Linked DNA regions of Homo sapiens. The protein of the gene in region 1 interacts with the protein of each later gene in a pairwise test. Each region holds a gene or a part of one and is shown on either strand. Other genes may lie near its edges. The genes, in order: HGFAC and VSIG1.

Region 1 (7,667 bases):
GAACACTCCAGGCAAATGCCCAAATGCCCACGGTATTGACCGGCGAGAGGGGGCAAACCCCTGCCTCTCCCCACACGATATCTCCCAGCCCTGCAGCCTGGCATCTGGAGCCATGCGGACCTGGTGACAAGAAGGAGATGGGCAGAACTGTCCCCTTGTCCCCTGGGGGCAGGGCTAGCTCCTAGCCCTGGCAGAACCTAGTAGGACACTTGTTGAATGAGCAGAGGCCTGACTGGGAGAAGTTTCTAGTCTCAGCTGCTCCACATGGACCCCTGGGCCTCCAGATGGCATCTCCACCGGGCCTGGCTGAGTAAGACACACAGGCCCCACACAGCTCCCACATGCTGGCTGGGCTGCTGCGTCGAGGCCAGGATGAGGGCCTCTGGGGCCACTGCTGGGACCTGTTCAAGAGAACGGGCTGGGCACGCTCAAGAGGGGAGTCACACCTTCCGCCCGCAGCCCGGACTTGTTCACAGATGCCTCATGGAGGCTGCTTCCGGAAGCTTGGACTGAGGGTGAGGAGGGGCACGCTGGGATTGGGGACCTTGGTGGCCACGGAGCCGCTGGGGCAGCAAGGACCCTGCGGCCATTTCAGGGACCTCAGAACTGTAGATCGAGGAGGGTCTTCACCTTCCCAGGCCTTCGATTCACCTGTGGAGGGCAGCAGTTGGTAGCAGGGACCCCCTGTCCCTGGTTCTCATGTGCCGGGGGCTGGCTCTTCCTGCCTCCTGTCTGCTGTGGGCCCAGGCCTGGGGCTCCTGCCACCCCATAGGCGCCTCAAGGCCTCCACCCTGGCATGGACATGACTGTCTCAGGGCCTCAGCCCCAGGCTCACTGAGGAAGGGAGCTCCTGGACCCCTGCCTAGGAGACACGCTAGGTACGCAGGAACCTGCCCCCGAAGCCTGCTCCTCTGGGTCGGCAACGTCACCCCCACCGCACAGATGGGGGGGTGGGGTCACTGGGCGGGTCGGCAACGTCACCCCCACCGTACAGATGGGGGGGTGGGGTCAGTGGGCGGGAAGGGCTGGGCTCTCCCAGCACGGGGGCTTCACTGCCCCTTCCCAGGCCCTGGGGTCCTGCCATGGAGCTCCGGGCGGCACATGAACCCAGCCATTCTGCGTGCACCGTTCACTTTCCTTGGCCCCAGCCTTCGTTGGCCCCTGGGGACTCCACCCTGGCATAGACACAACTGTGTCTTCCAGGGGTCCACGTGGAGGTCACCAGATGTGGCAGGGCAGTGACGCCCTGGGTAGGGAGGCCTCCCGGGGGTGCTGGCAAGGAGATGGCCTGCCCATGTTGGGTCTAGAAGCTTCCAAGGCCGGTTCAGGCAGCCGGGATCTCCTGGGGCTGGAGTGGGCATTGGAGCCAGAAGTGGGGCAAGAGTCACTGACCAGCCGGAAAGAGGGGCCTCAGTAGGGGGGCCAGGGATGGAGGGGGAGGGGACACGACCGGGAGGCCCAGAGCAGGGTGTGTACGGTGAAGACGGTGCTGAGGCAGCGAGGCAGGTGGGCGAGCAGGTGGCCAGCCTGGCAGGGTGGGATGGGGCAGCAGACACAGGGCTCAGGGCCCGTTCCACCAGGCCAAGAGGGTCCAGCCTATCTGGAACTGAACCCTAGTGCTCAGCCCCCTGGGGGTGGCCCTTGAGGATGGGCCCTGGGCCTGGGGGGGCCCCTGAGGACGCCCCCAGGAGGAATTAGGGGGGCAGTTGGGGCGGGGGCTCTGCCGGGGGCCCAGCTCTGTTCCTGAGCTGCAGTGGGGAAGCAGGGTGGTAGGGTTTCTGAGTGGGTCGGCTCCCCCACTTGGTGGCAGGTGTTATGTGGAGGGCTCTGGGAACACTGCACCTCCCCTGGGCGTACCTGCCCCAGCCTGGAGGCCCACAGCGGGACGCCAGCTGCCTCTGGGATGTGTTTGGGATATTTCAGGGACCCCTACCATGCTGTCTGTGCAGGGGCCTTCGGGGTAGGGGGTGGGTTCCGGGGGCCCAGGGCCGGGCCAGGCAAGTGACAGCTTCTCTTCTCCTTGTGACAGGAAGTGGGACCCATGGCAGCCGAGACCTCCCAGTCAACAGAATCATCGATGTGGATCTTGTAACTGGCTCGGCGCCCGGGCGGGATGGTGGCATAGCGGGGGCACAGGCTGGCCCTGGGAGGTCGCAGGCCAGTGGTGGGCCTCCTACATCAGACCTCCCTGGCTTGGGCCCCGTCCCGGGTGAGCCTGCTAAGCCCAAGACCAGCGCTCACCACGCCACCTTCGTCTGAGCTGCCCTGGCCTGGCCAACTCTCCTGTGGACATGTCGGGGTGGGGCAGCCCAGGTGGATTCTGTGGGCCTCAGGGGGGCCACCCTGGCCACCACACCCTCAGGAGCCCAGCCAGGAGGGCAGGGGGTGACCTCGCTGGAGGCACTGGCCCCGGACATTCGCCATGCTGGCCATGGGGCTCCCTGGCCCTGGCCTCCTGCTGCCCAATAAAGCATTTCTGAGGACCCAAGCGTCGGCCTGGTGCTGGGTGCTGGGGACACAGACTCCTCGTTCTCGGGGACTCCGAGCACATCCCCAGGAGGTCATGCAGGAAACAGAGGGGCCTGAGGAGGAGAAGTGCCCCAGGGTAAGGTCAAGGGGGCTTTGAGGAGAGGGAAGCTTGGCTCCTGGGGCCTGAGGGCCAGGACCAGATGGCAGAGACTGGCTCTCGCCGTCACGTGGGGACCCTGCCCCAGCCTTGTTTAGCAGGGTGGTCTGAGGGCCTTTCTGGGGAGGGACCATGTAAACTGCAACTGGACGGCAGAGGAAGTCTAGAAAGAGCCCTGGGCCTGTGCCAAGGCCCTGGGGCTAAGGAGGGTCTGATTACAGAAAGGGAACCAGGTGTGGCTGCAGGGGAGGCCGGGGCCTTGGGGGCTGGGTTGAGTCGGAAGAGGCAGGGCCATTCCCCAGGTTGCCTTGATGGAACCCCTAAAGCCAAGTACCCTCGGTACAGGGTGGTTGGTGAGCTCCTCAGACCATCCTAGAGGCCCGAGAGCACAGCCAGTCCCCTGGGGCTGTTCTAGAAGCTTCCAGGGAGTGGATGCACCCCACTTAGTGGTGCTCTAGGAAGGGGGCTGGGGGAGGGGTCGGAATGGAAGATGAAGCCCAGTGCCAGCTGTGTGTACCACCCACCACAAGCCCGCATCCATCCTGCTCCCAGCACCCACCATGCCTCCACATTCACCGTGCCCCCAGGGCCCACCATGACCTCCCCCCCAACCCCCAACCCCCCATTCACCGTGCCCCCAGCACCCACCATGCCTCCACATTCACCGTGCCCCCAGGGCCCACCATGACCTCCCCCCCAACCCCCAACCCCCCATTCACCGTGCCCCAGGGCCCACCATGACCTCCCCCCCAACCCCCAACCCCCCATTCACCGTGCCCCCAGGGCCCACCACGCCTCCATGTGCACTGTGCCCCCTGGGGCCCACGGTGTCAAGCTGGGTGGTCAGTGGGTGTCCATTCTCTCTCCCTCTGCACAGACAGGCAAATGGGGGGCAGAGAGAGGGGTTTTAGGGGATACAGGGAGGCAGCTTCAGCCCTCGCTGGTCTCCAGGCCACAGTGGTTCACTCACCCCTCCTCCCACCTCGGCAGCCCTGGGATGTCGCTGCTGACTCAGGAGGAACCCGAGGTGCCGTAGCGGCTGCTCCAATATTGCAGAAGAGGTTCCTCAGGCAGCTCTGCCCACAGCCCCAAGTCACGAATTCCGTGACTCCAGCTCCATCCCAGGCCCCAGGGTACCTGGCCCAGGGTTGTGCTGCCGCAGACTTGGCCTGTACCATCCAGGCGGCGGTGGGGAGCTGGGGTTGGAAAGGCTTCTTGGAGTGGACTCCTGGGTCTGTCTGGGAGACGGGGAGGAAGGGACACTCTGAACATCACCAGGGGCTGCTGGGGGGCCCTGGCCACCCCCAGAGTCAGAACAGGCAGGTGGGGCAGGATCTCAGGTCATCCTATGCTACACTCAGCCATTGCGTGGCCCCTCTCCTCCCTGTGCCTGGCCTTTTGGCCAGCCCTGGGGCCACCGAGAGGATGCAGCACCGAACCCTCCAGGAGCCCCCAGTGCTGCCGTCTGTGGGACAGGGACAATCCCATCCCCACTGCTACTGTCTGTGCTGTGCTGGGCACAGAGCTGGACACCTCCAAGGCCCAGCGCCCGTAGTGGCTCTCATCATGGACAATTCACAGGCAGATGGTGGCCAGCTCTGTGGCCTGCAGGGACTGGGAGCGGCGCCAGACCATCTAGGCCCCAACCTATCTGCATTATCCTGGAAGACTTCCTGGAGGAGGCTTCTAAGCTGAGGCCCAAGGACCATGTCAGGTCTAGGACTAGGACCAGTGCAGGCCGAGGCCAGAGAGACAGCTGGGCTTCCAGGTAGGGTCAAAGTGAGGTGGGCAGCAGGTGTGGGGGCCAGGGGACTCGGGGACTTCCTCTCCGGCTGGGCCCGCCTGACGTGGGAGGCAGCCAGGGTTAATCATTTCCACGAAGCCTTGACCCCACCTGCCTTGGCCGCTCTGCTCCCGCCTCCCACTGCCCCTCAGGCCAGCTCAGGAGCCATGGGGCGCTGGGCCTGGGTCCCCAGCCCCTGGCCCCCACCGGGGCTGGGCCCCTTCCTCCTCCTCCTCCTGCTGCTGCTGCTGCTGCCACGGGGGTTCCAGCCCCAGCCTGGCGGGGTGAGCACTGACCTTGTCGCAGTGCGACCAGAGGTTCCCAGTGGCTACTTGGGGTCCTTGGGAGGAGGCCAGAGGGAGGGTCGCCACAGAGCGTGGGGATTTGAGGGGGCGGGGGTCCGAGCAGGGGGCTTACGTTGAAAGCTGGCCCTCACAGGGCAGGTGGGTGCTGGACTGGCCTTGGAGGCTGGGGCCTGGGCTCACGGAGCCCCACCTGGGGGCTGTCATCCCTGTGCGGCCTGGCCTGGGCCCCTATGGGTCTGGGGGCTGCCCCCTCTCTCTGGACCTCTGTTGGGTCTGGATGCGTGAGGTTGGGGGAACCTCCCAGGGCCTCCTAGCTGCTCCCATCACCAAAAACTGACGTCAGGGTTTAAGCTTGGTGGGTAGCAGTGCCTGGGCCTGGGCAGTGACCCTGAGCAGGTGTTAACTAGGGGCCGAGGGCGGGGAAGGTGTCAGGGCCTGGCTGAGGCCTCAGGAATGTCGTGTGTCCTCCTGGAACCTGCTCCGAGATCTGGGGGCCCCAGTATGGAAACAGGCTCAGGGCTGTGACCTCCTGCCCGGCAGGACCTGAGTGTGAGGGTCTGTCCCACACTGACACCCTTTCTGCTCCTCCTAGAACCGTACGGAGTCCCCAGAACCTAATGCCACAGCGACCCCTGCGATCCCCACTATCCTGGTGACCTCTGTGACCTCTGAGACCCCAGCAACAAGTGCTCCAGAGGCAGAGGGACCCCAAAGTGGGGGGCTCCCGCCCCCGCCCAGGGCAGTTCCCTCGAGCAGTAGCCCCCAGGCCCAAGGTGGGTCAGGTGGGCCTGGGAGGAGGTGTCGTGCTTCACCTTAGGGCTGGGTGGGAGGAGCATGGCTGCGGCTGGAGGTCCTGAGGGGCTCGGGTGCCCCTCGAGGGAGCCCTGACCCTGCCACCCCCTCCCCACAGCACTCACCGAGGACGGGAGGCCCTGCAGGTTCCCCTTCCGCTACGGGGGCCGCATGCTGCATGCCTGCACTTCGGAGGGCAGTGCACACAGGAAGTGGTGGGTCCGGGCAGCCGGGGCACCCGAGCTGGGGTCACCTGCCCCACGCTGCCTGCTTTTCTGGGAGCCGGGCACACAGTAGGCGCTCACCACGCAGCAGGCGGACCCAGTGAACCCAGAGACCCTCCAGGGTGGTGGGGTGGGGTGGGGGGCCTCTGCCTGGGACCCCCATGCACGCAGGTGTCGCCCCCCAGGTGTGCCACAACTCACAACTACGACCGGGACAGGGCCTGGGGCTACTGTGTGGAGGCCACCCCGCCTCCAGGGGGCCCAGGTGGGTGCTGGGTTGGGTAGCCTGGGGCGGGCAGGGGGCACTGGGCCAGGCCAGAAGGGCCAAGGGGAGGATGGGGCGGACCCGGGCAGGGGTCCTGGCTGGAGGGGAGCAGAAGAGGAGCTCTGGGATTAACCCCGGTGGGTGCCACTTAGGGCCAGAGCCTCTCCCAGGTGGGACCTGCGTCTCATGGTGGCTGCGCGGCCATCGCTGGGGCCAAGGCGCCGCCTGGTGGTGAGGCCGGGCCCTGCAGCCACACAGGCGTGCCCCAGGCAGGGGACAGGTGGGCAGGGTCTGTGGGGTGCGGTGCCAGCCGCCCTGCTCACATGGGTCCTGGGACACATGGGAGGGGTCTGCTGCCTGACAGTGTGGGTGTCAGGCTTCCAGGAAGCCACGTGCACAGCTGGGCCAGTGGCCCAGGTGTTGAGTGGGGGACGCTGGGAGGAAGGGGAGGTCTGTGCCCCTCCCAGGGACCTTGCACCCCGAGGGGCGTAGAGAGGGCCCCTTTGCTCTCAGAGCCCCTCACTGGGGCCTGATGGACGCCTTAGCAAGCAGAGAATGTCACAGAGGGACCCTGAGCCTCCCAGTCCGCCCCTCACACCCCCTCCCGCATGTCCCCAGCTGCCCTGGATCCCTGTGCCTCCGGCCCCTGCCTCAATGGAGGCTCCTGCTCCAATACCCAGGACCCCCAGTCCTATCACTGCAGCTGCCCCCGGGCCTTCACCGGCAAGGACTGCGGCACAGGTGAGCTGGGCCTCGGAGGTCCGCAGGGGTCCAGGGGCCGGAGCAAGTCCCCGGAGGATGGGAGAACAGGTGGCTCCCGAGTGCAGGGCAGGGGCCCTGCACGGGGACAGCAGGTGGCAGGGTGTGAGGGCTTACTGTGCACCCCTCAGAGAAATGCTTTGATGAGACCCGCTACGAGTACCTGGAGGGGGGCGACCGCTGGGCCCGCGTGCGCCAGGGCCACGTGGAACAGTGCGAGTGCTTCGGGGGCCGGACCTGGTGCGAAGGCACCCGACATACAGGTGCGCCACGGGGTGTGAGCCGTGCCACTGACCCCTGACGGGTGTCCCTGTCCACACCCGAGTGGGAGGAATGGCCTGAGGTCACCCAGAAACAAGGGACAAGGGGTGGACCCCGGCCCCGACTCCGCTGTCGTGGGGCACTGCGCGGCCCCTGGCCCAGCTCCTCGGCCCTGCCCCCAGCTTGTCTGAGCAGCCCTTGCCTGAACGGGGGCACCTGCCACCTGATCGTGGCCACCGGGACCACCGTGTGTGCCTGCCCACCAGGCTTCGCTGGACGGCTCTGCAACATCGGTGAGTGGGTCAGCCCCCCGGGGTGCCCTGGGGCAGTGCCGGGTGGACCCACCGTGGGCCGGCCTCACTGCCCCTCTGCCCGCAGAGCCTGATGAGCGCTGCTTCTTGGGGAACGGCACTGGGTACCGTGGCGTGGCCAGCACCTCAGCCTCGGGCCTCAGCTGCCTGGCCTGGAACTCCGATCTGCTCTACCAGGAGCTGCACGTGGACTCCGTGGGCGCCGCGGCCCTGCTGGGCCTGGGCCCCCATGCCTACTGCCGGTCAGCACCACGCCGCTCCAGGCCGCCGCATGCGGGGCAGGCAGGATTTGTCCTGGGGAGAGGCCCCCCGGCTCCCTAGGACCCAGGCGGGGCCAGCTC
Region 2 (3,906 bases), on another chromosome or scaffold:
TGTATCCTTCAGATCCAGAAGTTGGAATCATTGTTGGGGCCTTGATTGGTAGCCTGGTAGGTGCCGCCATCATCATCTCTGTTGTGTGCTTCGCAAGGAATAAGGCAAAAGCAAAGGCAAAAGAAAGAAATTCTAAGACCATCGCGGAACTTGAGTAAGCCTTCATTTTGTTGTCTTTACTTGAATACAAACATTTCTCAGGCATGTCTTTTTCAGTCATCAATTCCTAAGCACTCCTTTTAGTATAAGATATCAGAGGTATCTTTCTGTTTACTCTCATTGAATTTAAAAAAGAATGATGATGGCTGCTATTTATTGAGTGCTGTGTGCCAGGCTCTGTTCTAAGCACTTTATGTACATCAACTCATTTAGCTATCACAACAGTTTTAGGTCCAAGAAAACATTTTCATATATAATACTAACATACTTGTCTTAATACCAACATAGTCATGAAATATAATTTTAAATTTTTTTATGGAACAAGAGACCCACAAGGACAGTGCCCAGGGAACACAGAAGTTAGAATGTGGCCCAGCCCACAGCTCATGCTCTTAATCACTCTATTTCTTTCCTAGTGTGTATCTCACTCATTCATTTTTTTTCATCTCCTTGCTTCTACAACTATCTATTGGGTATCAACCAGGTGCCAAGTATTGTACTAGATGGAGTGAGAAATAGCGATACATCAGAGCTATGAATTTGGACCTTAAAGACCTTATTAGATTCTTAGACTCTTTCATTCTGACATTATTTTCCCACCTTGAAACACTGCTCTTTCTTAAACTTTCATGATATTGTTGAGACCTAACCTTTCTGAATCCAAAATGACCTATGGCCTGACAATGAGTCAGAATATCAGAAATAACAGATTTCCTGAAGTCTGGGACCTATGGTCATTGAAGCTACAGAACATATGGTTTCACATGAAATTTCAAAGTTAGCATCTCCCTAACTTGTTCTTTTCTGGGCCTTCTTTCTTGCAGGCCAATGACAAAGATAAACCCAAGGGGAGAAAGCGAAGCAATGCCAAGAGAAGACGCTACCCAACTAGAAGTAACTCTACCATCTTCCATTCATGAGACTGGCCCTGATACCATCCAAGAACCAGACTATGAGCCAAAGCCTACTCAGGAGCCTGCCCCAGAGCCTGCCCCAGGATCAGAGCCTATGGCAGTGCCTGACCTTGACATCGAGCTGGAGCTGGAGCCAGAAACGCAGTCGGAATTGGAGCCAGAGCCAGAGCCAGAGCCAGAGTCAGAGCCTGGGGTTGTAGTTGAGCCCTTAAGTGAAGATGAAAAGGGAGTGGTTAAGGCATAGGCTGGTGGCCTAAGTACAGCATTAATCATTAAGGAACCCATTACTGCCATTTGGAATTCAAATAACCTAACCAACCTCCACCTCCTCCTTCCATTTTGACCAACCTTCTTCTAACAAGGTGCTCATTCCTACTATGAATCCAGAATAAACACGCCAAGATAACAGCTAAATCAGCAAGGGTTCCTGTATTACCAATATAGAATACTAACAATTTTACTAACACGTAAGCATAACAAATGACAGGGCAAGTGATTTCTAACTTAGTTGAGTTTTGCAACAGTACCTGTGTTGTTATTTCAGAAAATATTATTTCTCTCTTTTTAACTACTCTTTTTTTTTATTTTAGACAGAGTCTTGCTCCGTCGCGCAGGCTGTGATCGTAGTGGTGCGATCTCGGCTCACTGCAACCTCCGCTCCCTGGGTTCAAGCGATTCTCCTGCCTGAGCCTCCTGAGTAGCTGGGACTACAGGCACGTGCCACCACGCCCGGCTAATTTTTTGTATTTTTAGTAGAGATGGGGTTTCACGTTGTTAGCCAGGATGGTCTCCATCTCCTGACCTCATGATCCGCCCACCTTGGCCTCCCAAAATGCTGGGATTACAGGCATGAGCCACTGCGCCCGGCCTCTTTTTAGCTACTCTTATGTTCCACATGCACATATGACAAGGTGGCATTAATTAGATTCAATATTATTTCTAGGAATAGTTCCTCATTCATTTTTATATTGACCACTAAGAAAATAATTCATCAGCATTATCTCATAGATTGGAAAATTTTCTCCAAATACAATAGAGGAGAATATGTAAAGGGTATACATTAATTGGTACGTAGCATTTAAAATCAGGTCTTATAATTAATGCTTCATTCCTCATATTAGATTTCCCAAGAAATCACCCTGGTATCCAATATCTGAGCATGGCAAATTTAAAAAATAACACAATTTCTTGCCTGTAACCCTAGCACTTTGGGAGGCCGAGGCAGGTGGATCACCTGAGGTCAGGAGTTCGAGACCAGCCTGGCCAACATGGCGAAACCCCTTCTCTACTAAAAATACAAAAATTAGCTGGGCGTGGTAGTGCATGCCTGTAATCCCAGCTACTTGGGAGGCTGAGGCAGGAGAATCGCTTGAACCCAGGAGGTGGAGGTTGCAGTGAGCCGAGATTGTGCCACTGCACTCCAACCTGGGTGACAGAGTGAGATTCCATCTGAAAAACAAAAACAAAAACAGAAAACAAACAAACAAAAAACAAAAAATCCCCACAACTTTGTCAAATAATGTACAGGCAAACACTTTCAAATATAATTTCCTTCAGTGAATACAAAATGTTGATATCATAGGTGATGTACAATTTAGTTTTGAATGAGTTATTATGTTATCACTGTGTCTGATGTTATCTACTTTGAAAGGCAGTCCAGAAAAGTGTTCTAAGTGAACTCTTAAGATCTATTTTAGATAATTTCAACTAATTAAATAACCTGTTTTACTGCCTGTACATTCCACATTAATAAAGCGATACCAATCTTATATGAATGCTAATATTACTAAAATGCACTGATATCACTTCTTCTTCCCCTGTTGAAAAGCTTTCTCATGATCATATTTCACCCACATCTCACCTTGAAGAAACTTACAGGTAGACTTACCTTTTCACTTGTGGAATTAATCATATTTAAATCTTACTTTAAGGCTCAATAAATAATACTCATAATGTCTCATTTTAGTGACTCCTAAGGCTAGTCCTTTTATAAACAACTTTTTCTGACATAGCATTTATGTATAATAAACCAGACATTTAAAGTGTACAATTTGATGAGTTTTGACAGAGCACATACCCATGAAACCACCACACCCATCTAGAGAGAAAACATTTCCATCAGCCCAAAATGTTTCTTCATGCCCCTTTGTGCGATCCCACCATTGCCCTGGACCTAGGAAATCACTCATTGTTTTCCATCACTAGAGGTTAACTTTGCCTTTTCTTGGCCCTCATACATATGGGATGATACAGTATGTACTTTTTGTGTCTCACTTCCTTCTAAGGTGAATCCTTTTTAAACAAAGTAGTGAGTTTCTCATTTATCACTTTCAGATTTTCATGTAAAATATTTTCTTAAACTGCAAACTCCTTTCTATATAAATCATAACCATACACAGATTGAGGTAGAGTCTCTGTAGGTTTTAAGGAGAGTTAAAATGGAAATTAACATTACACTTATCTAGAGCCATGGAGAGAAGAGATAGCAAGCGTTTATTTCTGCATTTTCTTCGATGCGTCCATTTTCAGAAAATGTCAGGGATTTCTGATGCATTTATAATTTCATTCATACTAAATATGATAGTATGGTATATGGTGTCTGATGGACACAAGAAGCAAAATAATGAAGGTCTTAAGAATGACCTAATATTTAGAGATTAAAAAGTAAACAACAGTGTAAACATCTCAATTACCAGAATGCCCAAGTAGCTGGAATTCATTTTTCCTTTCCATTTTTATTATAGAGGCAAATCGCAAGAGACTGACATGTAATAGTCAACAATTACACCCCAAAATTTTTGATGGATCAGTGCAGTCCAGGAAAGAAAGCACT

What was found.
Region 2: the proteins of HGFAC (region 1) and VSIG1 interact in binary tests that used the Homo sapiens proteins (3 or more experiments, as listed by UniProt).

Annotation. Positions count from the first base shown.
Region 1 is NC_000004.12:3,437,426-3,445,092, forward strand, and holds the start of HGFAC (hepatocyte growth factor activator serine protease isoform 2 preproprotein), read left to right. Parts: upstream 1-4,542; 5' UTR 4,543-4,576; coding exon 4,577-4,693; intron 4,694-5,306; coding exon 5,307-5,487; intron 5,488-5,624; coding exon 5,625-5,721; intron 5,722-5,915; coding exon 5,916-5,995; intron 5,996-6,613; coding exon 6,614-6,736; intron 6,737-6,885; coding exon 6,886-7,017; intron 7,018-7,197; coding exon 7,198-7,308; intron 7,309-7,393; coding exon 7,394-7,568; intron 7,569-7,667. Other genes in the region: RGS12 (regulator of G-protein signaling 12), read left to right, coding at 2,030-2,259. UniProt on the Homo sapiens protein: Serine protease that hydrolyzes the inactive zymogen hepatocyte growth factor (HGFsc) to an activated disulfide-linked heterodimer, then initiating hepatocyte growth factor receptor signaling pathway.
Region 2 is NC_000023.11:108,076,065-108,079,970, forward strand, and holds the end of VSIG1 (V-set and immunoglobulin domain-containing protein 1 isoform 2 precursor), read left to right. Parts: intron 1-12; coding exon 13-154; intron 155-983; coding exon 984-1,317; 3' UTR 1,318-3,120; downstream 3,121-3,906.